Homo sapiens: one gene and its partners. The protein of the gene in region 2 purifies or fractionates together with the protein of the main gene of each other region. This does not show direct contact. Each region holds a gene or a part of one and is shown on either strand. Other genes may lie near its edges. The genes, in order: MAP7D1, CGAS, SMARCA5, TRIM25, ANKRD28, CNP and PDGFRA.

Evidence for each region.
Region 1: the proteins of CGAS (region 2) and MAP7D1 purify together in Homo sapiens (affinity purification with mass spectrometry, with the first as the bait; one large-scale study listed by BioGRID). This does not show direct contact.
Region 3: the proteins of CGAS (region 2) and SMARCA5 purify together in Homo sapiens (affinity purification with mass spectrometry, with the first as the bait; one large-scale study listed by BioGRID). This does not show direct contact.
Region 4: the proteins of CGAS (region 2) and TRIM25 purify together in Homo sapiens (affinity purification with western blotting; 2 studies listed by BioGRID, with this or other methods). This does not show direct contact.
Region 5: the proteins of CGAS (region 2) and ANKRD28 purify together in Homo sapiens (affinity purification with mass spectrometry, with the first as the bait; one large-scale study listed by BioGRID). This does not show direct contact.
Region 6: the proteins of CGAS (region 2) and CNP purify together in Homo sapiens (affinity purification with mass spectrometry, with the first as the bait; one large-scale study listed by BioGRID). This does not show direct contact.
Region 7: the proteins of CGAS (region 2) and PDGFRA purify together in Homo sapiens (affinity purification with mass spectrometry, with the first as the bait; one large-scale study listed by BioGRID). This does not show direct contact.

Annotation. Positions count from the first base shown.
Region 1 is NC_000001.11:36,162,660-36,166,159, reverse strand, and holds part of MAP7D1 (MAP7 domain-containing protein 1), read right to left. Parts: intron 1-3,500. UniProt on the Homo sapiens protein: Microtubule-stabilizing protein involved in the control of cell motility and neurite outgrowth. Facilitate microtubule stabilization through the maintenance of acetylated stable microtubules.
Region 2 is NC_000006.12:73,431,798-73,435,297, forward strand, and holds part of CGAS (cyclic GMP-AMP synthase), read right to left. Parts: intron 1-3,500. UniProt on the Homo sapiens protein: Nucleotidyltransferase that catalyzes the formation of cyclic GMP-AMP (2',3'-cGAMP) from ATP and GTP and plays a key role in innate immunity.
Region 3 is NC_000004.12:143,527,202-143,530,701, forward strand, and holds part of SMARCA5 (SWI/SNF-related matrix-associated actin-dependent regulator of chromatin subfamily A member 5), read left to right. Parts: intron 1-666; coding exon 667-822; intron 823-1,381; coding exon 1,382-1,513; intron 1,514-3,256; coding exon 3,257-3,325; intron 3,326-3,500. UniProt on the Homo sapiens protein: ATPase that possesses intrinsic ATP-dependent nucleosome-remodeling activity.
Region 4 is NC_000017.11:56,897,050-56,900,549, forward strand, and holds part of TRIM25 (E3 ubiquitin/ISG15 ligase TRIM25), read right to left. Parts: intron 2,132-3,500; coding exon 2,066-2,131; intron 1-2,065.
Region 5 is NC_000003.12:15,672,480-15,675,979, forward strand, and holds part of ANKRD28 (serine/threonine-protein phosphatase 6 regulatory ankyrin repeat subunit A), read right to left. Parts: coding exon 3,419-3,500; intron 712-3,418; coding exon of another isoform or gene 602-711; exon of another isoform or gene 1-601. UniProt on the Homo sapiens protein: Regulatory subunit of protein phosphatase 6 (PP6) that may be involved in the recognition of phosphoprotein substrates. Involved in the PP6-mediated dephosphorylation of NFKBIE opposing its degradation in response to TNF-alpha.
Region 6 is NC_000017.11:41,969,795-41,973,294, reverse strand, and holds part of CNP (2',3'-cyclic-nucleotide 3'-phosphodiesterase), read right to left. Parts: intron 1,404-3,500; coding exon 1,264-1,403; intron 1-1,263. UniProt on the Homo sapiens protein: Catalyzes the formation of 2'-nucleotide products from 2',3'-cyclic substrates. May participate in RNA metabolism in the myelinating cell, CNP is the third most abundant protein in central nervous system myelin.
Region 7 is NC_000004.12:54,295,293-54,298,745, reverse strand, and holds the end of PDGFRA (platelet-derived growth factor receptor alpha isoform 1 precursor), read right to left. Parts: 3' UTR 501-3,453; downstream 1-500. UniProt on the Homo sapiens protein: Tyrosine-protein kinase that acts as a cell-surface receptor for PDGFA, PDGFB and PDGFC and plays an essential role in the regulation of embryonic development, cell proliferation, survival and chemotaxis.

The DNA of each region.
Region 1 (3,500 bases), on a different chromosome or scaffold from region 2:
CTGTTTCTCTGCCTTGAATTCTCTGCCCCCAGATTCTGCGTGCCTCGTTCCCTCCCCTCCTTCAGGTCTTTATTTTGATGTCACTTTTAAATGGAGCCTTCCCTTAGCCCCTATTTAAAACTACAAACTGGGCTGGGAGCGGTGGCTCACGCCTGTAATCCCAGCACCTTGGGAGGCCAAGGCAGGTGGATCACCTGAGGTCAGGAGTTCGAGACCAGCCTGGCCACAATGGCGAAATCCCGTCTACTAAAAAACACAAAAATTAGCTGGGTGTGGTAGCATGTGCCTGTAATCCCAGCTACTCGGGAGGCTGAGGCTGGTGAATCACTTGAACCCAGGAGGCAGAGGATGCGGTGAGCCAAGATCGTGCCACTGCACTCCAGCCTGGATGACAGAGTGAGACTCCGTCTCCAAAAAAAAAAAAAAAAAAGCTACAAACTGCAGGCGTGGTGCGGTGGCTTATGCCTGTAATCCCAACACTTTGGGAGACCCAGACAGGAGGATCCCTTAAGGCCAGGAGTTTGAGATCAGCCTGGACAACATAGTGAGATTCCATCTCTAAAAAAATTTTTTTAAATTACCCAGGCATCATGACATGCTGAAATAGAGACTGAGGTTACAGTGAACTATGAGCATGCTGCTGTACTCCAGCCTGGGTGACAAAGCAAAACCCTGTCTCTAAAAAAAAAAAAAAAGAAAAAGAAAAAAAAGAAAAATTTTAAATAAAATTAAATAAAGGCCAGGCAAGGTGGCTCACACCTGTAATCCCAGCAATTTGGGAGACTGAGGTGGGAGGATCACTTGAGGCCAGGAGCTTGAGAACAGCCTGGGCAACACAGCCAGACCCTATCTCAACTAAAAAATAAAAAACAGCTGGGCATGGTGGTGCACACCTGTAGTCTCAGCTAGTTAGGATGCTAAGGCAGGAGGATACCTTGAGCCCAGGAGTTTGAGGCTACAGTGAGCGATGATTATACCACTGTATACCAGCTTGGGCAACAGAGTAAGATGCTGTCTCAGAAAAAGAAAAAAAATTAAATAAAACTACAAACTGCAGTTGAAGTCTCCCTCCCAGTTCCAACTAGATTTTTCTTTCCAAGTCTTCTTTTTCTCCATAGGCATTAACACCATTTTAAGTCTCCCACTGCTAGAATATAATCTCTATGAGGGCACAAATTTTTGCCTATTTTGTTAGCTGGTCTATCTCTAGGGCCAACAGAGCCTGGCACATAGGTGCTCCATAACTATTTGTTGAATGAAGAAATGAATGAACTACACCCAGGCAGATATCATCATCACCATCATCGCTCTCACCTGGATGACTACAAAGTCCTCTCACTGCTCGCCTGTACCCATTCCCACTCTCTGCTCCACTGAGCAGCCAGAGCAAATGCAAATCTGATCACGGTGCTCTTTGCCACTTGAAACTTGTCAGTGGCTTCCCCTTCTTGAACTCACCCTACTAGTCCAGTATAATAGTATAATCTGAAGTTCCTGACTCCCTCCCCCTACTTCTTGGATCTCCTCTCCTACCCTGCTCCCCGCTTGCTCTCTGAACTCCAGCCACACTGACCTTCCTTTAATGCTGATGACCATCCACACTCCCTCCTGCCACAGGGCCTTTGCACATACTCTCTTTTCTTAGCTAACTCCTATTTGCCCTACATATGTTAGTTCAGTCATCACTTCCTCATGGAAGCCTTCCTTGGCTTCTCTGATTAGGATAAATTCCCTTGTTGTATATAGTCATGGTTTCATGTGCCTTTGGAACACTGTCACTGTTATGATTTTAAACTTCCTTGCATGGTTCTTTCCTTATTGTCAGCCTCCTCCTAGAAGGTGAGGGAGCCCCACAAGAGCTGGCCATGTCTACTTTGCTCACTGCTGCATCACCAGCAGCTACCACAGTGCCAAGTATACGGAGATAGTCATAAAATATTTGAATAAACAGTATAACACAAATAAAGTGCTATACTATGAGGCTGCCCTAGCCTAAAGCATATAGAAGATTTTTACTCTAATAAAGAGTAGATCTAGGCTGGGCGCAGTGGCTCACGCCTGTAATCCCAGCACTTTGGGAGGCCAAGGAGAGCAGATCGTTTGAGCCCAGGAGTTCGGGAGCAGCCTGGGCAAATGGCAAAACCCCATGTCTACTAAAACTACAAAAATTAGCTGGGCGTGGTTGTGCACACCTGTAGTCCCAGCTACTTGGGAGGCTGAGAGAAGAATCCCTTGAACCCAGAGGTGGAAGCTGCAGTGATCTGAGACTGCACTACTGCACTCCAGCCTGGGCGACAGAATCAGATGCTGTCTCCAAAAAAAAAAAAAAAAAAAAAAAAAAAGAAAAAAAGTATATATCTATGTGGCAACTTATAGCAAAAAGATAAACATTTGAAGAGAAGCAAAACAACTCCATCTCAATAGTGTTTGGGCAGCTTCCTGGACTAAGCCACACAGGTAGAAGTTAATAAAAATAATAATGAGTGTTTACTCCAGCAGCTCAACAAGAAAAACTTCTCAAGAGGCAAACAAGAAGTTTGGAACTCCTCTTGTGACCTGGCACACTATTGACCCTGAATACAAATATTTTCTTCACAATTATGCCAACCCTGATGAAATGTCATTGGCACAGTGTTATGGAGCAAATCACATTAAGCCAAAACTCCTTGGTTAGTTATCTATACAGTATGGTTAATCTATTTATGATCATTCTCATTTTTAACCATCAAATATGATCCTTCGGCTACTTAATTTTATCTTATTTTTGGTCTATGCCAGATTGTGAGGTTTTGCCACTGTTGGTTTTATTTTGCTACACTAATATCTACCAGAAGTATTTGTTAAGAATGAGATAAGAGACAAATAATTTGTATTTATTTCTTGGCACAAAGAGCATTAGCAGGGCAAAAGTGCAGTGGTGGGTTGCATTGTGGGGTCAAAAAGTCCTGTCTTCCTAAGAGCTCCAAGAGGGGCTGTGCCTGGGGTCTGCAGAAAGATCAGGGCCAAGTCCCTCAGAGAGACTGTCACATGTCTCAGAATACTAACACCCCATCTCCACCCTCTGAGAGCTGGCAGTCCTTTCCTTTTGTCTCTCCCTCCTCCCACCCCAACAACTCTTGTTGGGCCAAATATTCCTCTCACAACACTGATAACTCAGTCTAGCTTTTCTGTTTGCCTGCCACCCCCTGCCCTTGTCAGTGTGAGAGCTTATCAAGAGAAGAAACTCAGTCTTAGTCCTTTTTGCAGCCCCAGAGTCTTATACAGGACCTGCCTGGCACAGAGTGGGAGTTCTGTGTCTGTTTAATGAATGTCCGATGGGTGGGTGGGTGGCTGGGTATGTAGATATGTGGGTGGGGGTACTGTAGAAAGCTACCTAGCTAGTGTGTATTTAGACCCTCAAGCTGCTCCAAAGCTTAGTCTCTCTAAACACTAAATGTCATGTTCATCTCAGAACCTGCATGTCCCCAGCCAGTTTCCAGGCCCAAACTAATTTACTGAAG
Region 2 (3,500 bases):
TAATACTGAATAGGTGTTTGATATTAGGGAATTATTACTTTTTTCTTTCATTTTTTGAGACAAGATCTCCCTCTATCACCCAGGCTGGAGTGCGTGAACACAGCTCACTGAAACCTCGACTTCCCAGCCTCAAGCAATCTTCTCATGTTAGCCGTTCCAATAGCGGGACCAGAAGCATACATCACCATGGCTGGCTAATTTTTGGATTTTTTTGTAGAGACGGGGTCTCTCCACCTTGCCCAGGCTGATCTCAAACTCCTGGGGTCCAGCAATCCTCCCACCTCCCAAAGTGCTGGAATTACAGCTGTGAGCCACTGTGCCCAGCTAATATAAGAAAATTATTATTTGTTTATACATTTATTTTTATTTATTTTTATTTTTTGAGATTGAGTCTCGCTCTGTTGCCCAGGCTGGAGTGCAGTGACACCATCTCAGCTCACTGCAACCTCTGCCTTCCAGGTTCAAGTGATTCTCCTGCCTCAGCCTCCTGAGTAGCTGGGATTACAGGCATGCGCCACCATGCCCGGCTAATTTTGTATTTTTAGTAGAGATGGGGTTTCACCATGTTGGCCAGGCTGGTCTCGCACTCCTGACCTCAGGTGACCCACCCGCCTTGGCCTCCCAAAGTGCTTGGATTACAGGTGTGAGCCACCGCTCCCAGTCATTGATTATTTTTTTAAGACAAGGTTTCACTTTGTCACCCAGGCTGGAGCGCAGTGACATGATCTCGGCTCACAGAAGCCTCAACCTCCTAGACTCAAGTGATTCTCCCACCTCAGCCCCCCAAATAGCTGGGACAACAGGTGCATATTACCACACCCAGCTAATTTATTTTGTATTTTTTGAAGAGACAGGGTTTTGTCACGTGGCCCAGGCTTGAACTCCTGGGCTCAAGTGATCCACCCACCTCAGCCTCCCAAAATGCTGGTATTACAAGCATGAGCCAACACTCCTGGCCCAGTCTCCTTTGGTACTGGTTTAAAATTTTCATAATAAAAAGTTTTGGCCAGGCGCGGTGGCTCACGCCTGTCATCCCAGTACTTTGGGAGGCCGAGGTGAGCAGATCACCTGAGGTCAGGAGTTTGAGAGCAGCCTGGACAACATGGTGAAACCCTATCTCTACTAAAAATACAAAAACTAGCCAGACACGGTGGTGGGCACCTGTAATCCCAGCTACTCAGGAGGCTGAGGCAGGAGAATCGCTTGAACCCAGGAGGTGGAGGGTGCAGTGAGCCGAGATCGCACCACTGCACTCCAGCCTGGGTGACAGAGCGAGACTCCATCTCAAAATAAATAAATAAATAAATAGTTTTAAAATAGATCAATTACCTATGAATAAATTAACAAAAGATATACAAAACCTCTGCAGAGAAAATGCTAATGAATGAAGCTGGGAAGTATTAGAGGAGATGTAAATAAGTGGATTGGGAGACTCAATATTGTTAACATATCAACTCTCTCCCATGTTTTTTTTTTTTAATACAGACAGTGTCTTGTTATGTTGCCCAGGCTGGAGTGCAGTGGCAAGATCATAGCTCACTGTAACCTCGAACTCCTGAGCTTAAGTGATTCTCTTGCGTAACTAAGACTACAAGCTACAAGTGCACACCACCACGCCTGGCTAATTTTTAAAAAGTTTTTATAGAGATGAAGACTCACAACTCTCTATAAAAACTTTTATAGAGAGTTTTTTTTTTTTAATTTTTTTTTGAGACGGAGTCTCTCTCTGTCACCAGGCTGGAGTGCAATGGCGTGATCTTGGCTCACTGCAACCTCTGCCTCCTGGGTTCAAGCGATTCTCCTGCCTCAGCCTCCCGAGTAGCTAGGACTACAGGCACGTGCCACCATGCCCAGCTAATTTTTGTATTTTTAGTAGAAATGGGGTCTTACCATGTTGGCCAGGATGGTCTCGATCTCTTGACCTCGTAATCCACTCACCTTGGCCTTCCAAAGTGCTGGGATTACAGGCGTGAGCCACCACGCCTGGCTAGAGTTTTTACACAGTGTTGTCCAAGATGGTCTTGAACCCCTCACCTAAAGCAACTCTCCTTCCTCAGCCTTCTGAAGTGCTGGAATTACAGGCATAAGTCATCATTCCTGGCCCCAAATTTATCTATAGATTCAACATTATCTCAATCAAAATTCCAAAAAGTATTTTGTGGAATCTGAAAAGCTGATTTCAAAATTTATATGAGAATGTAAAGGGTCAAGACTCTCTCAGACACCCTTGGAGAAAAACGAAGTGGTAGAACTTGCCCTAAAAGATATTGAGACTAATTATAAAGCTACATTATGTACAACAACATGGTACAAAGATAGACAAAGATTTTAATGGGACAGAATAAAGAGTTCAGGGATAGCTACACAATACGGTTGGCCCTCTGTATCTGAGGGTTTCACATCTGAGAATTCAACCAATCGTGAATTGAAACCCACAGATATGGAGGGCCAACTGTATTATATCATTTTATGTAAGGGATTTGAGCATCTGTGGACTTCGGTGTCTGCAGGGTACCCTGGAGCCAATCCTGAGGGTCAACTGTACATGACTGTAAAGAAAGGTGGCACGTACCGTTGATAAAATTTGATAAGGATGGCACTTTGCCTCTGTGACCTTCCTCCCCCAAACCAATAACTCTGATCTAATCATAAGAAACATAATAAAGAAATCTCAAGTAAAGGACATTCTACAAAATACCTAACTAGTACTCCTCAAAACTGTTAAAACCAAAAAACTGTCACAGTCAAGAGTAGCTTAAGGAGACATGACAACTAAATGCAATATGGTATCCTAAATGGGATCTTGGAACAGTAAAAGGACATTAAGAAAAACTAAGGAAATCTGGATAAAGTATATAATTTTTTTTTTTAATGGAGTCTCGCTGTGTCTCCTAGACTGGAGTGCAGTGGCATGATCTTGGCTCACTGCAACTCCACCCACCAAGTTCAAGTGATTCTCCTGTCTCGGCCTCCTGAGTAGCTGGGACTAAGTCACATGCCACCACGCCTGGCTAATTTTTGTATTTTTTTAGTAGAGACGGGGTTTTGCCATGTTGGCCAGGGTGGTTTCGAACTCTTGATTTCAGGTGATCTGCCCACCTCGGCCTCCCAAAGTGCTGGGATTACAGGCAAGACCCACTGTGCCCAGCAGATATAGCCCTTAGCTAACAATAATATATCAATATTGGTTTATTAATTATTAAATGTATTGTATTAATGTGAGATATTAATAATAGGAAAATGGGGGTGCTGCAGTGGCACGTGTCTGTAGTCCCAGTTACTTGATAAGGTGAGGTGGGAGGATCATTGAGCTCAGTTCAAGACCAGCATGGGCAACATAGTGAAACTCTGCCCCACTACCTCCCCCAGAAAAAACCCCAGGGGAATGGGTATGGGGTTATACGGGAACTCTCTGTACTATCTTCACAATTTTTCTGTAAATACAAAACTATGCTAAAACAAAAAGTTTATTTTTAAATAAACTACACTGAGATATCATT
Region 3 (3,500 bases), on a different chromosome or scaffold from region 2:
TGGAAATAATGACATTAGTATATAAAGCTCAGATTTGGAAATTTATTCAGACTCTACTGAATAGCTGTGTACTTGTTTTTTATTTCCTCTTCATTTACCTGTGAGTGATAAGTCTATATTTTTCTCTCCCTTTCTAGTTATGTTGGATATTTTAAGTTATCAATTTTTGTTTGTTTGTTTGGGAGCCCAAAGAGTGGTAATTACTTAACCAGTCTTTGCTTCAGTTTCCTTACCTTTAAAATAATACTATTAGGAATGTGTTAATACATTTATAAACCTGAAAGGAATGCAGATGCCTACTACTGCTAACTATCTTTCCACCCTCTTCCTTTCTTTATGTTAAAACCTCCCTCTTTTTTGTCTAAACCTGCCTCCTAAGAATTTCCCGATCTAGTGGAATTGCAGAAAGACATTTTAAGTGTCTATTGAATTTTTCACTGGTTAACTTTGTCAGTTTTTTAAAACTTAATGGTTCTGACATTTAAATGATTAATGACGTTACTTTAGTCTTAGGAAAGCTGGTTCTAAACGTTTGCATAATATAGCTAGCTACTCTACTCCTTTTTAGTATTCCCACCTCTTTTTATATACTAGATTACTTGTCATCAGTAAATGTAATGCGTAGTTTATTTCTACGTGATGTAATTTTTTTCTCTTGTTACACAGGCTGCTTTTGTCAGAGACGTTTTATTACCGGGAGAATGGGATGTATGTGTAACATCTTATGAAATGCTTATTAAAGAGAAGTCTGTGTTCAAAAAATTTAATTGGAGATACTTAGTAATAGATGAAGCTCACAGGATCAAAAATGAAAAATCTAAGGTAATTTGATACTTAGATGTGAAAAGCCTTCATGTAAGAATTTGATTAAAGTACAGATTTTTTTTTCTTTTAACTTTAAGTTATGAGATACATGTGCAGAACGTGCAGGTTTGTTAACATAGGTATGCATGTGCCATGGTGGTTTGCTGCACCCCATCATCTAGGTTTTAAGCCCCGCATGCATTAGGTATTTGTCCTAATGCTCTCCCTCTGCTTTCTCCCCACTCCCCGACAGGTCCTGGCATGTGGTGTTCCCCTCCCTGTGTCCATGTGTTCTCATTGTTCAACTCCCACTTATGAGTGAGAACATGTAGTGTTTGGTTTTCTGTTCCTGTGTTAGTTTACTGAGAATGATGGCTTCCAGCTTCATCCATGTCCTTGCAGAGGATATAAACTCATTCTCTTTTATGGCTGCGTACTATTCGCTGATGTATATGTGCCATATTTTCTTTAACCGGTCTATCATTGTTGGGCATTTGTGTTGGTTCCAGGTCTTTGCTGTTGTAGATAATGCAATATGCAGAATATTCTAATGGTGTATTTGGTTCTTTTCTTTCAGTTGTCAGAAATAGTGAGGGAATTCAAGACTACAAATAGACTATTATTAACTGGAACACCTCTTCAGAACAACTTGCATGAGCTGTGGTCACTTCTTAACTTTCTGTTGCCAGATGTGTTTAATTCAGCAGATGTAAGTATTTCCTGGTGCTTTCTGGTTAATAATAATATTTTGCTTAATGCTATATATTTTTGTAATAAAAGTGGCCTGCCTTTTAGCATGGCTTGAGGTTATTATTAATTTTTTATGCTTTTATTTACATAGTTAGCCTGGTGTTATCTCCTAGGTTGTCTCTGTATAATGGGAATTTACTTTTGTGCCTTTGGTTTCAATCTTATTTCATTATTATTATTATTATTTTATTTTTTTTGAGACGTAGTCTCACTCTGTCACCTATGCTGAAGTGCAGTGGTGTGATCTTGGCTCACTGCAGCCTCCACCTCCGGAATTCAGGTGATTCTTGTGCCTCAGCCTTCCGAATAGCTGAGATCACAGGTGTGTGCCACCATGCCCGGCTAGTTTCTGTGTTTTTTGTAGAGATGAGGTTTTGCCATGTTGTCCAGGCTGGTCTCAAGCTCCTGGCCTCAAGCGATCTGCCTGCCTCAGCCTCCCAAAGTGCTGGGATTACAGGCACGAGCCACCACACCAGGCCTCAGTCTTCTTTAAATCATTGTTTTCTCTATCTGAAATGGCATAAATTGTCACTCCTATTTGGTAAGTCAGGTTGGCCTGACTTTGTTTCAGTGGCTCTAGGTTGACTGGTTATGTTTTTAAGGTGCTGCTCAAGGTATTCCTGAAGTGATTTGTATACCTCACATTGCTTATGTTTTAAGTCCCAAGGATGACTGTCAAATTTAGTGAAATCTGTCTGGCTTTTCTTATATTATAGTCTAACAAACAAATAGAACCTAATCTTTATGGATTATTTATAGTCATAGAAAGGATAGTAATGGTTAATTAGCTATTTGAACTGTTAATAGTAATATAATAACTATGTCAAGAGTTTGTGCTATTAGAAATTGCAGTTTTTTTTGCCTGGACCAGTGTTTATTTTTGAAGCTTTGTTTGCATAGCTGGCGTCTTATGTGTATTGGAGGGATTTGAAGAGCTCCATGTTAGTATATTTTTGTACAATTAAGTTATAAAAAGGTATTAATTAATTTTGTTTTTTTTCTGTTGAAGATTGTTTTGAAAGAATAGATTGTGTTGTAAAAAGATATTTAATCAGACTCCAAAAGCAATTTTAGCTTCGATTTTATGTATTTTGATGTTTTTGAGATAATTCCTGTTTCTCACTACATTGACACTTTCATTTACTTTAAAGCAGTGAATTCTAAGATTATGTTTACTCAAAAACAAAGCACATATATAATACATATGTTCAAGAGATGAGGTTAGGGAAACTGCCCTTGTTGAAATCGTAACCAAATATTAATGAAATGCTGGTAATTTCAATTTCATTTAGTAAGTTTGATTAAAATTGACATTGTTCGTAAACTTGTATTTGAGTAGTGCGAATGGTCTCAGAGAACAAACTATAAAATGTTTTAATTTTCAAGCTTTTATGAAACTTGAAAGATACTTTACAAGAATATTAATTTTCTAATCCTATAGAACTTGCTCTCCAACTTTTTACTGTGAAACTTGTTATTTTGATGTTTTTGAGAAGAATGTTTAGAAGGTAGTGTGATTTCTGAACTACTTGTTTTAAAATTAGTAACAATGACACATGAAAACCAGGATTGGACTAAGTGATTTTTTTTTGTGGGTTACAATTCAAATTACTAATTCTAGAAATCATTTCTATATCTGGTATTATAGGGTATTTGTTAATATTATCTCTGATCTGAGTATATTTTTTGTTTGTTTATCTAGGACTTTGATTCCTGGTTTGATACAAACAACTGCCTTGGGGATCAAAAACTAGTTGAGAGGCTTCATATGGTAAGTATTTTGGAGTAGTGTTAAAGCATATTTATGATGGGAAAAAGGATAAAGGTTTAAATTAGTAGATTATTTTCCTGTTAATAAAAAACACAATGGCTTAAGAATCAGATCTGCTTGAATTCTGACACTTAACTCTTACATCTTACAATCAGTGTAGGGGGTGATGTGTGGT
Region 4 (3,500 bases), on a different chromosome or scaffold from region 2:
CTGCAATGAGTTCTGTTCGCACCACTGCACTCCAGCCTAGGCAAAAGAGCGAGACTCTGTCTCTTAAAAAATAGTAAATGCAAATTCTTGGGCCCCAAGCCAGAGCCACTGAATCATAAAGGCTGGGGGTGAGACCCAGCAATCTGTGATGTACAAGCCCTCCAGGTGAGTCCAAAGTCCACTCAAGTGGGCTAGAAGATCCCAGCTTCCTTCTTTGCCACCTTCCACAACACTGGAACAAAAAGGGGCGTTTTTGAAATCATATCCCTGCCCACCTGCAGGACACCTGACATTACAGATAAGCCCTGCTCTCTCCTATTACCCTCTCCCTCCCCCAGACCCCCATCACACCACAAAGCCCCCTTGCTACCGCTTCTCCTACTTCGAAGTCACATCACTCACAGTCGCTCACTCTCCCATTTCCTCCCCTTCTGCCACTTTCCCACCCACTCCCTGTGGACCAGCATCTTGGGAGGCCCAGGCTGTGACATCAATCTAGGGCACAGGCACCTCCCTCATCACCTACCCTTAGACATCTCTCTGCACTGGGACTACTCCATACCCCCTCCCCTATTTCCCCATTTCAGCCTAGAGGAGCCTTGATTCATTCCCGAACTTTATTCTCCAGGGTGTCATTCTGCTGTGACATGAGGACCTCACCTCACTGGGGAACACACCTGCCTGCTGGCCGGCATCCCTACCTCATTCATACTAAGGGAGGAGCTTTCAGAGGAAGGTGACTGGGGAAGGACACAGGTCAACAGTACCTTTCCACTTCCTCTTTCACTCCTCTTTTCACACAAAGTACCCTTCGAGGTTTTCCGGCCCAGCTAAGGGCTCCCTCCTCCATCTGCACCAGGCATCCCAGCCCTGACTCTGTTCCATTCGGGGACCGATACCACACTCTGCCTGCTACAGGTGACCTGAACACTAAGCACAAGCAACAACAACAAAGAGCAAGCCCTGGCTCTCTCATCCCCCCAACACCAGCAGTGTGCAGCCAGCCCTCCTGGGTTCACACCAACTTTTCAGGGAAGCAATGACAGCTAACATTTCAGTGGTATATGGACATGTCAGTGGTATATGAACATGTCAGCGGTATATGGGCATGTCAGCGGTATATGGACATCTCAGCGATATATGAACATGTCAGCGGTATATGGACATGTCAGCAGTATATGGACATCTCAGCGGTATATGGACATGTCAGCAGTATATGAACATCTCAGCGGTATATGGACATGTCAGCGGTATATGGACATCTCAGTGGTATATGGACATCTCAGTGGTATATGGACATCTCAGTGGTATATGGCTCATAAAGAGCTCTCACAATCAGTGTCCCCTCATCACTCAGAATCATCCTGTGGCCTCGATATCACTATTGTCCACATTTGCAGAACAGGACCACTCTTCTCCTCAACCCCCATGTCAATGGCAGGTGCCTGCCCAATGAGGGGGATAGTACCCCTAGGAGGGCAAAAATGGATCCTTGGGGGAGGGGGAGTAAAAAAGATTACTCTTTTTATGTGTAAAAGCACAAACATAAACAGTTATGCAGTAGATGGGTGGTATTAAAATTTCATGGGTTGTAATTAGGAAAAAAATTTTCTCAAATGGTTCTGGGGATGAGCAGGAGGAGGGTAACAGTGAGAAACCAAAAAAAAAAAAACAGTTGAGAAACATGGTAATAGCAGAAGCCCATTACAACCCAGAGACTTAACACTGCTGAGATGCCAAGGAGGTTTAGCCTCCACCCTTCCTGGACCGCCATCAGTCTCCTTGCCCAAGGCTCTGCCCAAGGACTTGGGTATAGTAAATATTTCTCAAAACAAGCCAGCCTCAGGCATCTTGCTGTTCCAGGCAGCCCAAACGTGCAATGCTGATGGACAGCGGAGCTTCTGCCACAGCCCTACAGCCCCCCGCAGTGGGGACTGCCACCAACTTCTTTCCCACTGAGGTCCAGGCCCCACAGTGACTCGGGATGGGCCGGAAGTGACTTGGCCAGAGCCTGGGGAGGCCACAGCCATGCTGTTGCCATGGAGACAGGGGTGGGGCTACTTACTGGAGACCTTCTTCACAGGGCGTGTGGATTTGTGTGTGGACGCTGGGTCATGCTCTCCAGGGTCACCTGTGTCAGAGAAGAAGGGCTCAGTGTGTGCGGCTCCTCTCACTGACCCTAGCAGCCAGCTTTGCCATGGGTCGGTGGGCAGGCAGAGGGTTTACACAGACAGCCATTTCCTCCGACCTTCCCCATCCCATCGCTTACAAGAGCTACAAACAAGGTGATCTAAGAACCAGTTTGGTGTATTCCCTTTTTTCTCTGACTTTTTAAAATGTAGCAAGGGCCAAGTCTTTTTTCCACCAGCACCCAGCTCTGTGGCCTCTGAGACTTCTCTGAGCTTTGGTTTCTTCGAGCACACAATGGGGATGACTTCACCTTGCTCATGGTTGATGTGACTCCTGAATGAGATCAAGGTCATGTAGCGGAGGCTGGGTCAACACTTGTTCCTTTCCCACTATTCTTTCTCTCCCCTCCTCCCACATACCAGCCACCTATAGCTTTGCCCCCACGCAGCACTTCCACAATGGGGCTGCACCGCCACCGATTTCAGAAGCCCTTCTGCAAGGACACTCGGCAGGCCAAGCTGAGATTCAAGCCCAATCTTGGACTACACAACAGAGATTTACTATGGGCCAGGCTCTGTGCTAGGCACTAGGGAAATAGCGTTGAAGAAAAATCAGACAGGCCAGGCACAGTGGCTCAAGCCTGTAATCCCAATGATTTGGGAGGCCAAGGCAGGAGCATCACTTGAAGCCAGGAGCTCAAGATCAGTCTGGACAACTTAGCGAGACCCTGGCTCTACAAAAAAAATTTTTTAGGCTGGGCCCGGTGGCTCACGCCTGTAATCCCAGCATTTTGGGAGGCTGAGGCAGGCAGATTACTTGAGGTCGAGAGTTCAAGACTAGCCTGACCAAAGTAGTGAAACCATGTCTCTATTAAAAATACAAAAATTAGCCAGGTGTGGTGGCACATGCCTGTAATCCCAGCTACTCAGGAGGCTGAGGCAGGAGAAATGCTTGAACCTGGGTGGCAGAGGTTGCAGTGAGCAGAGATTGGGCCATTGCACTCCAGCCTGGGTGACAGAGCGAGACTCCGTCTCAAAAAAAAAAAAATTTTTTTTTAATTAGCCGGGCATGATGGTGTGTATCTATAGTCCTAGCTAGTCGGGAGGCTGAGGCAGAGGGATCACTTAATCCCAGGAGTTTGAGGTTACAGTGAACTATAATCACGCCATTGCATTCCGGCCTGGGCGACAGAGCAAGATCCTGAATAAATAAATAAATAAGCCGCAGCCCCTGACCTCACAGAGATCACAACCTAATGAGGGAGATATACGGGGATCCCAAGGAAGAATGCGATACTACCCATGCAAGAGTCCCAAGAGGATGACAAGGACCCTGGGCCCAGTCTGAGGAGTGGGAGCAGTGGCAGGGGA
Region 5 (3,500 bases), on a different chromosome or scaffold from region 2:
TTGTCAAGGGTCAAAGAGAACAACTGATGTCCTTCCAAGTTTGGCAGCAGTGGCTGAAGGCTGTCCGTATTTTTAATTAAATTTTATTTGTTCAAAGTAGCTGGGGGAGTGCTTCACTGCCCACACTTCTTTCAAGGGTTCTTCTAAAGGTGCCTGCTGCTGTTCCTGCTGCTGGCAGGCAGAACAACCCATTACATAGGCCAGGATGCCTTGGATGAGAGCGGGAGTGGGGAAAGAAGCTTGTTTCAGGTGTGTTTTCTAGTCAGAATATGACTAAAAACAGGCTCCTCTCCTCTGCATGGGGGTTATTTTTTGAGACGAAGTCTGGCTCTGTCACCCAGGCTAGAGTGCACTGGCATGATCTCGGCTCACTGCAACTTCTGCCTCCTGGGTTCAAGCGATTCTCTTGCCTCAGCCTCCCAAGTAGCTAGGATTACAGGCACATGCCACCACACCTGGCTAATTTTTGTATTTTTAGTAGAGACGGGGTTTTGCCATGTTGGCGGGGCTGGTCTCGAACTCCTGACCTCAGGTGATCCACTCGCCTTGTGCCTCCCAAAGTGCTAGGACCATAGGCATGGGCCACCATGCCCGGCCAGTTTTATCTCTTAACATGCCACTCTCTTTGCTTAGAAAGTTCCTCCCCCACTTTCTCCTTATCCTTTGGATTTTGGCTTAGCAGTTGCATTTTTTGGGATGCCTTCTCTGATCCTGCAAGAAAGGATTTGAAGACCCTCTTAAGTACTCTCATAGCATTCTATGCTTATTCCAATTAAACTATTTTAAGTGCATCGTTAATAGGCTGTTTGCACTCTTATCTCCATTCAAGGGAGTAGACTATGTCTTATTTTACACTATATCATCAGAAGTTAGTACAGTGCTTGGCATAATCACTCATGCAGCAAATATTCACTGAGCCTCCACTTGCTCAGGCACTATTTAGAACACTAAGAATATATCAGTGAATGCAACTGACAAAGATTTCACTGTTCTTGTGGAGCTTACATTCACTTTAGTGGAGAAGACACAAAATCAACATAACAAAAAAGTACATTATATACAATATGTTAAAAGCTTTATGTAAAAAAAGAGGAAAGAGTGGAGCAGGTTAACAAGGACTGAGAATGCTATGGTAGGGGTATCTAGCAAGTTGTAGTAAAGAATAGTTAGAATATGCTTCATTGAGAAGATGAAACTGGAGCTAAGATTTGAAACAGGTGACGAATTTAGTCATGGGATGTTTGGGGACAGAGTGTTCAGGCAGAGTAAACAGCCAGAATGAAGATCACAATGCATGTATAACCCTGCTATGGAGGGGCTGGCATGGCAGAATGAAGTAGAGAAAGGAGAAGAGTAGGAAATAATATCAGAAAGGTAACAAGGTGGAGGACACATCATGTAGGGCCTAGTAAGGTCATTTTAAGAACTATGAGTGGGGCCAGGTGGAGCACTCTGGGAGGCTGAGGTGGGGGGATTGCTTGAGGCCAGGAGTTCAAGACCGGCCTGGACAATATAGTGAGAGTCTGTCAGCACAAAAAATAAATTAGCTAGGCCTGGTGATGCATACTTATAGTGCTAGCTACTTGGGAGGCTGAGGTGAGAGGTTCTCTTGAGCCCAGGAGTTCAAGGTTACAATCAGCTATGATCTCACCACTGTACTCTAGTCTGGGCAACAGAGTGAGACCCTGCCTCTTCAAAAAAAAAAAAAAAAAAAAAAAAGAAGAAGAACCGAAATTCAAGAGTAACATGTTCTCATATACTTTAAAAGGATCCAGGTCAGTCTGGTAGCAGTAAAGAAAAAAGTGGGCATACTTTAGATCTACTTTAGAGGTGGAGTCAATAGTATATGCTGATGGACTATACATTGAGTATGAGTGAGAGGAATCAAGGATGACTCTAGGGGTTTTGCCCTGAGCCACTGTTAAGAATGAGAATTGTCTTCAATGGAGAGAGCATGATGCTGTGGGGAGAGTAGGTCTGGCAAGGGGAGTGGGAAAGGATCAACAGTTCAGTTCTGCACATTCTAGGTTTAAGCTGTTTATCAGACATCCACATGGATGTGTCAATTAGGCACGTGGATATATAGAGACTGTGAGAAGTCTGGGCTGGAGATATAAATCTGGGAATCCTCAGCATTATAGGTAGTATTTAAAACCAAAGGAACTGATGAGAGCACTAGGGAGTCAATGTAGATAGAGAAAGCAAAAAGAACGAAGAATTGAGTCCTAGAAGAAGAGGGAGAAATTTTGTAAAAGAAATTAAGAAGGAATAACTAGTAATGTAGAAGGAAAACCAAGGAAGAGTGGGGTTCAAAAAGCAGAGTAAAAAAATTTATCAAAGGAAACGATCAGTTGTGCCAAAAGCTGATCTATCAAGTAAAATGAGAGCTAAGTAGTAGTTAACACAGTAGAAGTCATTGGTGGTTTTGATGGGAACAGTTTTGCTATGTGTAGGGGTGAGGGGGAGAAGGCCTGACTATACGGAAATTAAGAGAGAATGGAAGAATGAGGCTGGACGCTGTGGCTCACACCTGTAATCCCAGCAATTTGGGAGGCCAAGGCAGGCAGATCACCTGAGGTCAGGGGTTTGAGACCAGCCTGGCCAATATGGTGAAACTCCGTCTCTACTAAAAATACAAAATTTAGCCAGGCGTCGTGGCAGGTGTCAGTAATCCCAGCTACCTGGGCAGGCTGAGGCATGAGAATCGCTTGAACCCAGGAGGCGGAGGTTGCAGTAAGCCGAGATCATGGCACTGCACTCCAGCCTGGGCAACAGAGCTAGACTCCGTCTCAAAAACAAACAACAACAACAACAACAAAAGAATGGAAGAATGAGAGGAATAACTGCGGACAGCAAGAGAGTAGTTTTGCTGCAAAAGGGGACAGAGAAATATGGCAGTAGCTGGCAGGAGCAGTGAGATTTATAAATTATTTTTTAAGGATGAGGGAACTAATGTTTATATACTGAGAGGAATAATACAGGAAGAGAGCGAAAAATGTTACTCCAGGACACAAAAGAGAACTGTCAAACTGACATTATGAAGTAGGCAAAAGGGGACAGGATCTAGTGCATGAGTAGAAACACTGGCTTTAAATAAGAATATTAGTACTTAACTAGGATCTTGATACATATTTGCTGAAAGAACAAAATCTTTGGCTACTAAAACAACAGAAAGTGGCAAGTATAAACAGTAAATACTAACTTTGCTGTAACAGATGATATAGGAATTCGGAAGTACATCTGTTAGATAACTTTTCCTATTTCTTTTGCCCTTATTCCTTTGCCACAAACTACTCTTCAATATTAACTTTAGCTCTCCTCTTTGACCAATAAAAAATATCCAAGTTTATTTCTCTTCAAATATGGATCAAAAGATAAAAGCTCTAGGTTAAGGGAAGAGAATATAGAACCAACTTACCATTTTCATCTACTGCAAGCACACTTGCTCCTTTTCCCAAAAGTTCCTGAACCACCATTGTTAGCCCATTTCGGGCAGCAAC
Region 6 (3,500 bases), on a different chromosome or scaffold from region 2:
CGCTCCAGGCTCAAGTGAGAAACACGAAGGCGCTCAGACAGGGCCACACGGGGACAGCCGGACTTCCTGAGGGAGCCCAGCTCCCTGCACACTGGCTTCCGGCCTCAGCGGGCTGGCTGACCTCTCGGTGCCTTGGCTTCATCACCCGTAAAACAGGGAGAACCAGAGCCTACCTCAGAGTTAATGTGGTTATGAGAGTGACTAGGTAAACAGCCCACAGGGGTGTCCGCGCACACAACAGCTGCTACTGTTGGCACCGCTCAGCTTCCCCTGGGACCCAGACAGCGCCCTGGAGGACAGGGTGAGGTCAGACTGAGGTCAGACTCGCCCTTGATGGAAACCTGCTCTTACACTTTGGTTCCCATCTGATGATATGTCTGCTTCTATCTGATTCTTTGAGACAGCCCATCCCATCTCAGCATAAACGCTTTTCTATTTTTGCTCACGATCCCTTGTCCCAACAGTGTCTGGCATGAAATGGGTAGTTAATAAATGCTAAATGAAGGCATGGTTAGGGATGGTAGCTCAGGTGTTACATATTCATTCCACTATGCTAGGGTGCTGGAACCACAGGAGTCAACGAAACTTAAAAACTCGCCCTCAGGGGAGCTTCCATTTGGGAGGACACTCTAGTGAACAAACAAACGATTGTGCTAACCTAGGCAGAGAAGTGGGAGAGTGGGCTTGGGGGTGGACACTTGGAAGTTGGAGACTGTGGATATGGGTGACATGCCTGGCATTCAGGGATCACTGTCAGTGGCTGTGGGTGTAAGGTGCCAGCTGTGTGGTGCAGAAAGGTCTCGTACCCATTAGCCAATAAGCTTCATTATCGTATGAAACTCCCTCACTCTGGGGCCAGGCCAGACCTCAGACCTGGGGACAGGGATGGGGACCTCAGTGCACCAGGCTCCCTGGGGGCGAAGGACTCCTAGTCTTTGGAAGGTAAAACAGGCTCAGAGAGACCAGAGCAGGAGCCCACTGTGGACCAGCATTCTCCATGAATCTGCAGAAGGCGAAGGTGCTTGGGGGCAGGTGAATGCACAGGCTGGCAGTACTGCCAGGGCAGGCTCCTTAGAACCTGCGGCTGAGGTCTATGCAGCTACGCCTGGGGACAGGGGAGCTAGGAGGAGGAGATGCCATTTTTCTTGAGCTGCCATCTGGTTTTTGGTCCCTGCCTGGCACCGGTACCTATCTTCAGAAGATGCTGCAGCCCCTTCTCCCCCAACCTCCCACCTCCCCCATGTGTCCCTGGGGAAGACTCACATCTTGTTGAGCGTACTCCTCTGCCCCGGGAGCCTTCCCGTAGTCACAAAACTTGGTTGTGCAATGCAGCACGCCTGGGGGTCTCTTTCCAAAGTAGGTGACCAAGTCCATCTTCTCCCTGGGCTCATCCCCAGGGACGACTGCCGGGAGAAAACGGGTGCAGTCAGGGCAGGGGAGCAGGGGCATACCAACATCCGCCACCAGGACCACCGAGGCCCAGCGCAAAACACTCGGACACTAAGCATCACCTCTCCAGCAACCCACTACAGCTCATTCATTGGTTAGTTGGTCAAACTAATGGCAACTTTAGAGCAATAAAAAGTTAAAATTCTCAGGCCAGGTGCGGTGGTTCACACCTGTAATCCCAGCACTCTGGGAGGCCGAGGTGGGTGGATCACAAGGTCAGGAATTCAAGACCAGCCTGGCCAAGATGGTGAAACCCCGTCTCTACTAAAAATACAAAGAAATTAGCCAGGCGTGGTGGCGGGCGCCTGTAATCCCAGCTACTTGGGAGGCTGAGGTAGAGAATTGCTTGAACCCAGGAGGCAGAGGATACAGCGAGCCGAGATAGTGCCACTGCACTCCAGCCTAGGCAACAGAGCAAGACTCCGTCTCCAAAAAAAAAAAAAAAAAAGTTAAAATTCTCTGGCTTTACATTGTATAGATCTTTCCATCTCTTCTCCAAACTCTAAGGCATTTGTAACAGAGGCAGGCAGTACAGGCCAAGGGAATCTAAGATTTACTAGCACCACGTCTCAAAGGGGAAGCAAGTCATGGGAAGTGGGGTGGAAAGAAAACAGAGGGCTGGGAACAACATGGTACGGTGGAAACAGCCAGAACACAGTGAATATCTCAGCTCTGCCATGTACCAGCCATCGGCCTCGGGCAAGTGACCAACCCTATCTATCAATCCAGCACAACAGTTAGGGTGACCATATACCCCAGTGTTCCCAGGACCACCAGGGAACTATCAGTAGTGCCCCATTTCACTCAGGGGCCCATCTGGACAAGCAGTCACAACGTCACCATCAGTTTAATACACACCTTGCAGGCCTATGGGGGGGCCTCCTGGTACAGGAAGGGTCTTGGACTATAATGGGGTGACATTATGGGGCTGGAAGACACAAAGAGGAGTGGAGTATCTGTGATTTTGATTTCCAGACTCCACACCTGTGGCTGTCTTTGGAGTCACTCGCTTTTTCCTGTTATGTTCTGAATTGAGTCCCCATGAGGATGTCTCGCCCTCCACAGGGGAGGAAGGCCTCTCCTGAGAGCAGCCTTGCTGGCCCATTACATTTCTCCTGCTCTAATCCTGGGCAGAAAAATCCAGTTTTCCTTTACAAATAAAATAGGCTGGGCATAGTGGCTCGCACCTGTAATCCCGGCAATTTGGGAAATTGAGGCGGGGCGTTTGAGACCAGCCTGGCCAACATGGTGAAACCCTGTCTCTACTAAAAATTTATAAATTAGCCAGGTATGGTGGCGGGTGCCTGTAATCCCAGCTACTTGGGTGGCTGAGGCAGGAGAATTGCTTGAACCCGGGAGATGGAGGTTGCAGTAAGCCGAATTGCCCCACTGCACTCCAGCCTGGGCGACAGAGCAAGACCCCCGTCTCAAAAAAAAAAAAAAAAAAGATCTGGCAATCATCCTGTCAAGCTTGATTCGTCCCATCTTGGGCCAAGGGCCCCTCCTTTCTTTTGTGCTACCGACCAGCCTGGTCAAGATGGTGAAACCCTGTCTCTACTAAAAATACAAAAATAAAAAAAAATTAGCCGGGCATGGTGGCAGGCGCCTGTATTCCCAGCTACTTGGGAAGCTGAGGCAGAGAATTGGCTTGAACCCAGGAGGCGGAGGTTGCAGTGAGCCGAGATCATGCCACTGCACTCCAGCCTGGGCAACAGAGCAAGACTCCGTCTCATAAATAAATATTAAAAGCAACTTTGAGCAGTAGTCACTCCAGGGCAGAGCCACCAGCTCACAGGTACAGGGCTTGCTCCTGGCCAATGTCACTGCAAGCACCACAGTTCACTGCAGAGTTCAAGTTTAGGAGCTGAGAAAAAAGCTCTCTGAGAACCCATACAGGCACAAATTCCCTGCTTCTGTGCAATATACACAATGTCAACAAACCAGAGTGGGGCTATTTCAGGCATGAAGATCATCTAAAATTGGGGGTGGCTGGGTGCGGTGGTGGCTCACGCCTGTAATCCCAGCACTTTGGGAGGCCAAGGCAAGCGGAT
Region 7 (3,453 bases), on a different chromosome or scaffold from region 2:
ATCATCTTTAAGTCAAATACTGTGTCGTGGAACAATCTAGCTCATATAATGTCTTAAACCTTAGATATTCTATTGGTTCATCAAAAGCCTAATAAAGGCCAGGCGTGGTGGTTCACACCTGTAATCCCAGCACTTTGGGAGGCCGAGGCAGGCAGATCATCTAAGGTCAGGAGTTCGAGACCAGCCCGGCCAACATGATGAAACCCCCATCTCTACTAAAAATACAAAAATTAGCCAGGCATGGTGGCAGGCGCCTATAATCCCAGCTACTTGGGAGGCTGAGGCAGGAGAATTGCTTGAACTCGGGAGGCAGAAGTTGCAGTGAACTGAGATCACGCCACTGCACTCCAGCCTGGATGACAAGAGCAAAACTCCGTCTCAGGAAAAAAAAAAAAAAGGCCTAATATAGAGTCCTACAAATGTTGCTAAGAAAGTAAATAGAACAGGATTGCTTTAATTCTTATGATTAAACTAAAAACAAAAATGCTGAAACCTTAGTATAACTTTAAATTATATATCATTTATTGAAATATAAAGATCTTCATTTACACGTTTTAAAACAAAAACATGAACAGGGGCATTCGTAATACATTTTGTATTGGTAGACCCTATCAAGTTAGTTTTTCTCACACATTCACCACACCATTGTTTTGGGAACATGTAAGTATCTTTCTTTTTATTATTTCTAAAATATAAATTTTGGACATTCAAAAGTGCAACAGTTAATGTGCCTGTGGGGATTATCACAGTTAAAAAAATATAAACGAAGGCAGTGATACAGCTTGTCATAAATGTTTTGGCAGTATTCTCCAAGTCTATATAGAAATACATATATACATATTGATGTATAACATCATTTTATCTTATGTCCCTCTTCACAAAAATAGGACCATTTTGTACAGATTGGCAGACCACATTTTAAGGACATCACTAATCGTTTAAAAAGTCACAAATAGTGTTTCTCAGGCCGGCTTTGATTGTCATCATAAAAATAGAAAGTAGGAAAGATTGGCAAATTTTCTTCTGGAGACTTTGCAGGAGGCCAAAAGGAAACAAATCTGGAATTTGCTGAAAACACACACACACACACAAATGCAGTCATATACAAATTCAGGTGGGAGCATTTGTTAGGACTGGAAACTGCTGGACTGAGAAGTTTCATCCGGCCTCATGATGTCATGCAAGGCTCACAGCAATATCAAAATGCAAAGCACCAACAAAATAAGGCTGTACAAGGGAGAGTGAGCGATAAACAGAATGCTTGAGCTGTGATTCTAGAAACACAAACGTATTTCAAGTCTAATTGGCTCTACAGAACCTAGTCAGGTTTTCGTTTTTAATTGGCCAATCTGGCTCAGTCTTCGCACTTACTATGAAAAAGTTGGATAAGAAAGTTGGGGCTTGCATTGAGATTACACCAGTAGGTAGTCAAGTACTTTATTATTGCTTCTGCATCTTCCAAAGCATCATCTGCCGATAGCACAGTGATTGCAGTAATCACAGCCCATGTTTCATTCATATGGTATCAGCAATTAAGCAGTATTGCAAAGAATGCCAATGAACCCACACCAACCTGTTTGACAGTGTGGATAGATGTGACAATTCATCCTCCCATCTAACCTCAAATTATCAGTAAAACTTAAAATGTTTTTTCCACCAAAACACTGAGCTGGTTACACAGAGACTTGGAACACTGAATTGCATAATTTTTGTACATGCCTTTCCTTGGCGGGGTATGGAGTGGGAGGCAGAAGACGGGAGACGGGGAAAGTTCAATCTCCCCCATACAGTGGGAAGTAGCATCTTTACTTTTGGAAAACCTGTCAAAACCAAACTTTAGCTTTCTCAGCCTCAGCTAAGACTGGAAAGTTAAATTAAGGTCGCAATTGCTAGCTAGATGGCATTAAATGTCACTAACCTGAAGCCAAGGATTTAAATAGTAGGCTTCCTGCGTGGTTGAATGCCAACCCTGTTCCAAAGTTCAAATTATTTGTTTCCCATGGCAACTTCCTGAAACCTAAGTCAGTGTTTCCGAAAACTGGCCGATCAGAACAGCCAGGGAGTTTAGAAAAATACAGACTCTGGTTTCCCTCAGACTTCATACTTCAGAATCTCAAGGATGGAAACCCAGGATCTAGTCATCCTGGCTGCCACACACATTTGAGAACTGAGGATCCAGGCTAATGCACATCCAGCCTCCACTAAAGAATATCTTTATGGTCTCGAGTTTCAAACTCTTTCTCTTTGGGGTAAGGGGTGAAAGAAGGAGGCTGATGTCTGGGCATCCTTCTGACCCTTTTCAGGTTCATAGATTCAAAAAATACATATATTGGGGTCGCCAAAGCTTTCATCAGGCATGAAGAAAAAAAAAAAAAAAACTTCTGCAAATCCAGTCTTTTTGCTGATCATTATATTTTCCATTGGGTAATATACATGAGAAGTTATGTTCAGCACAGGTTTATGCCTCTACATTGAGAACTTTTAGGACTTAAGAGTTTTGTTTGTTTCTAATCCCATTATTTCAGAGGGCAGTTAATTGTTTTTTAATACGATGGATTGGGGAACCTATTCAGTACAGTTAAAAATTCTGACTTCCTGGACAACACTACTTTTACTTTGTTCTCTATGCTCAACTAAATTTAATTCACTAAAGCTATTACCATACTTTATAGAGAAACATGTTATTTAATATAAATGTCAAAAACTGTCAAACTCATCACCTACTTAGTAAGGATTGTTTTAAATTGTGCTTTCTCTGGAGGGAAATCATGTTACATTATTACACATTTAGCATTACTGATAACAGTAGTAGTATTATAAACATAGATTACAATATGAAAATGAGTTGTCAGGCTTCTAAATGACCCAAATCTATTAAACAAGGTTGGTTAATTATTATTCTTTATCTCTTTAACACTAAAAAAGATAGCAAAATGCTATAGTACCAGTACCTTTTAAGGTTCAAAAATGGTTTTTCATGCACTTCTTTAAAAAGTTCAACAGCAGCTGACATCAGGTTTCAAGAGGGAAGTACATGGATGGATTGAGTGGTCTCTTCAGAAGTCCAAAGAAGATAGTTAATACAATCTAAACACAGCCTTGGTTAGAGTTATTTACATAATTACAATGCTGAAGTTCTGTCGCAGTATAAATTGTGTCTGTTGGACTCTCACCAATGTCCTTGAAGCACAAAGTTCACCTTCTGTGGCCTATTATTCCCTTATCCATCTATCTCCAAACTTCACACACCACTGAGATGCTACTGAGGCATTGCAAGAGGCAACACTGACAAAGTTCATTTCAAAATATCCCATTCATTCATATTTAGAACGCTCCCCGAGGCCCTTGGCTGGGAACTTCTCTTTAAACATCAACCAAGTCCTCCTCTCAACCTCTGCATTGCAATAAAGTGGTTTTCTGAACGGGATCCAGAGGTGGCCCCAGAAGTGGAAG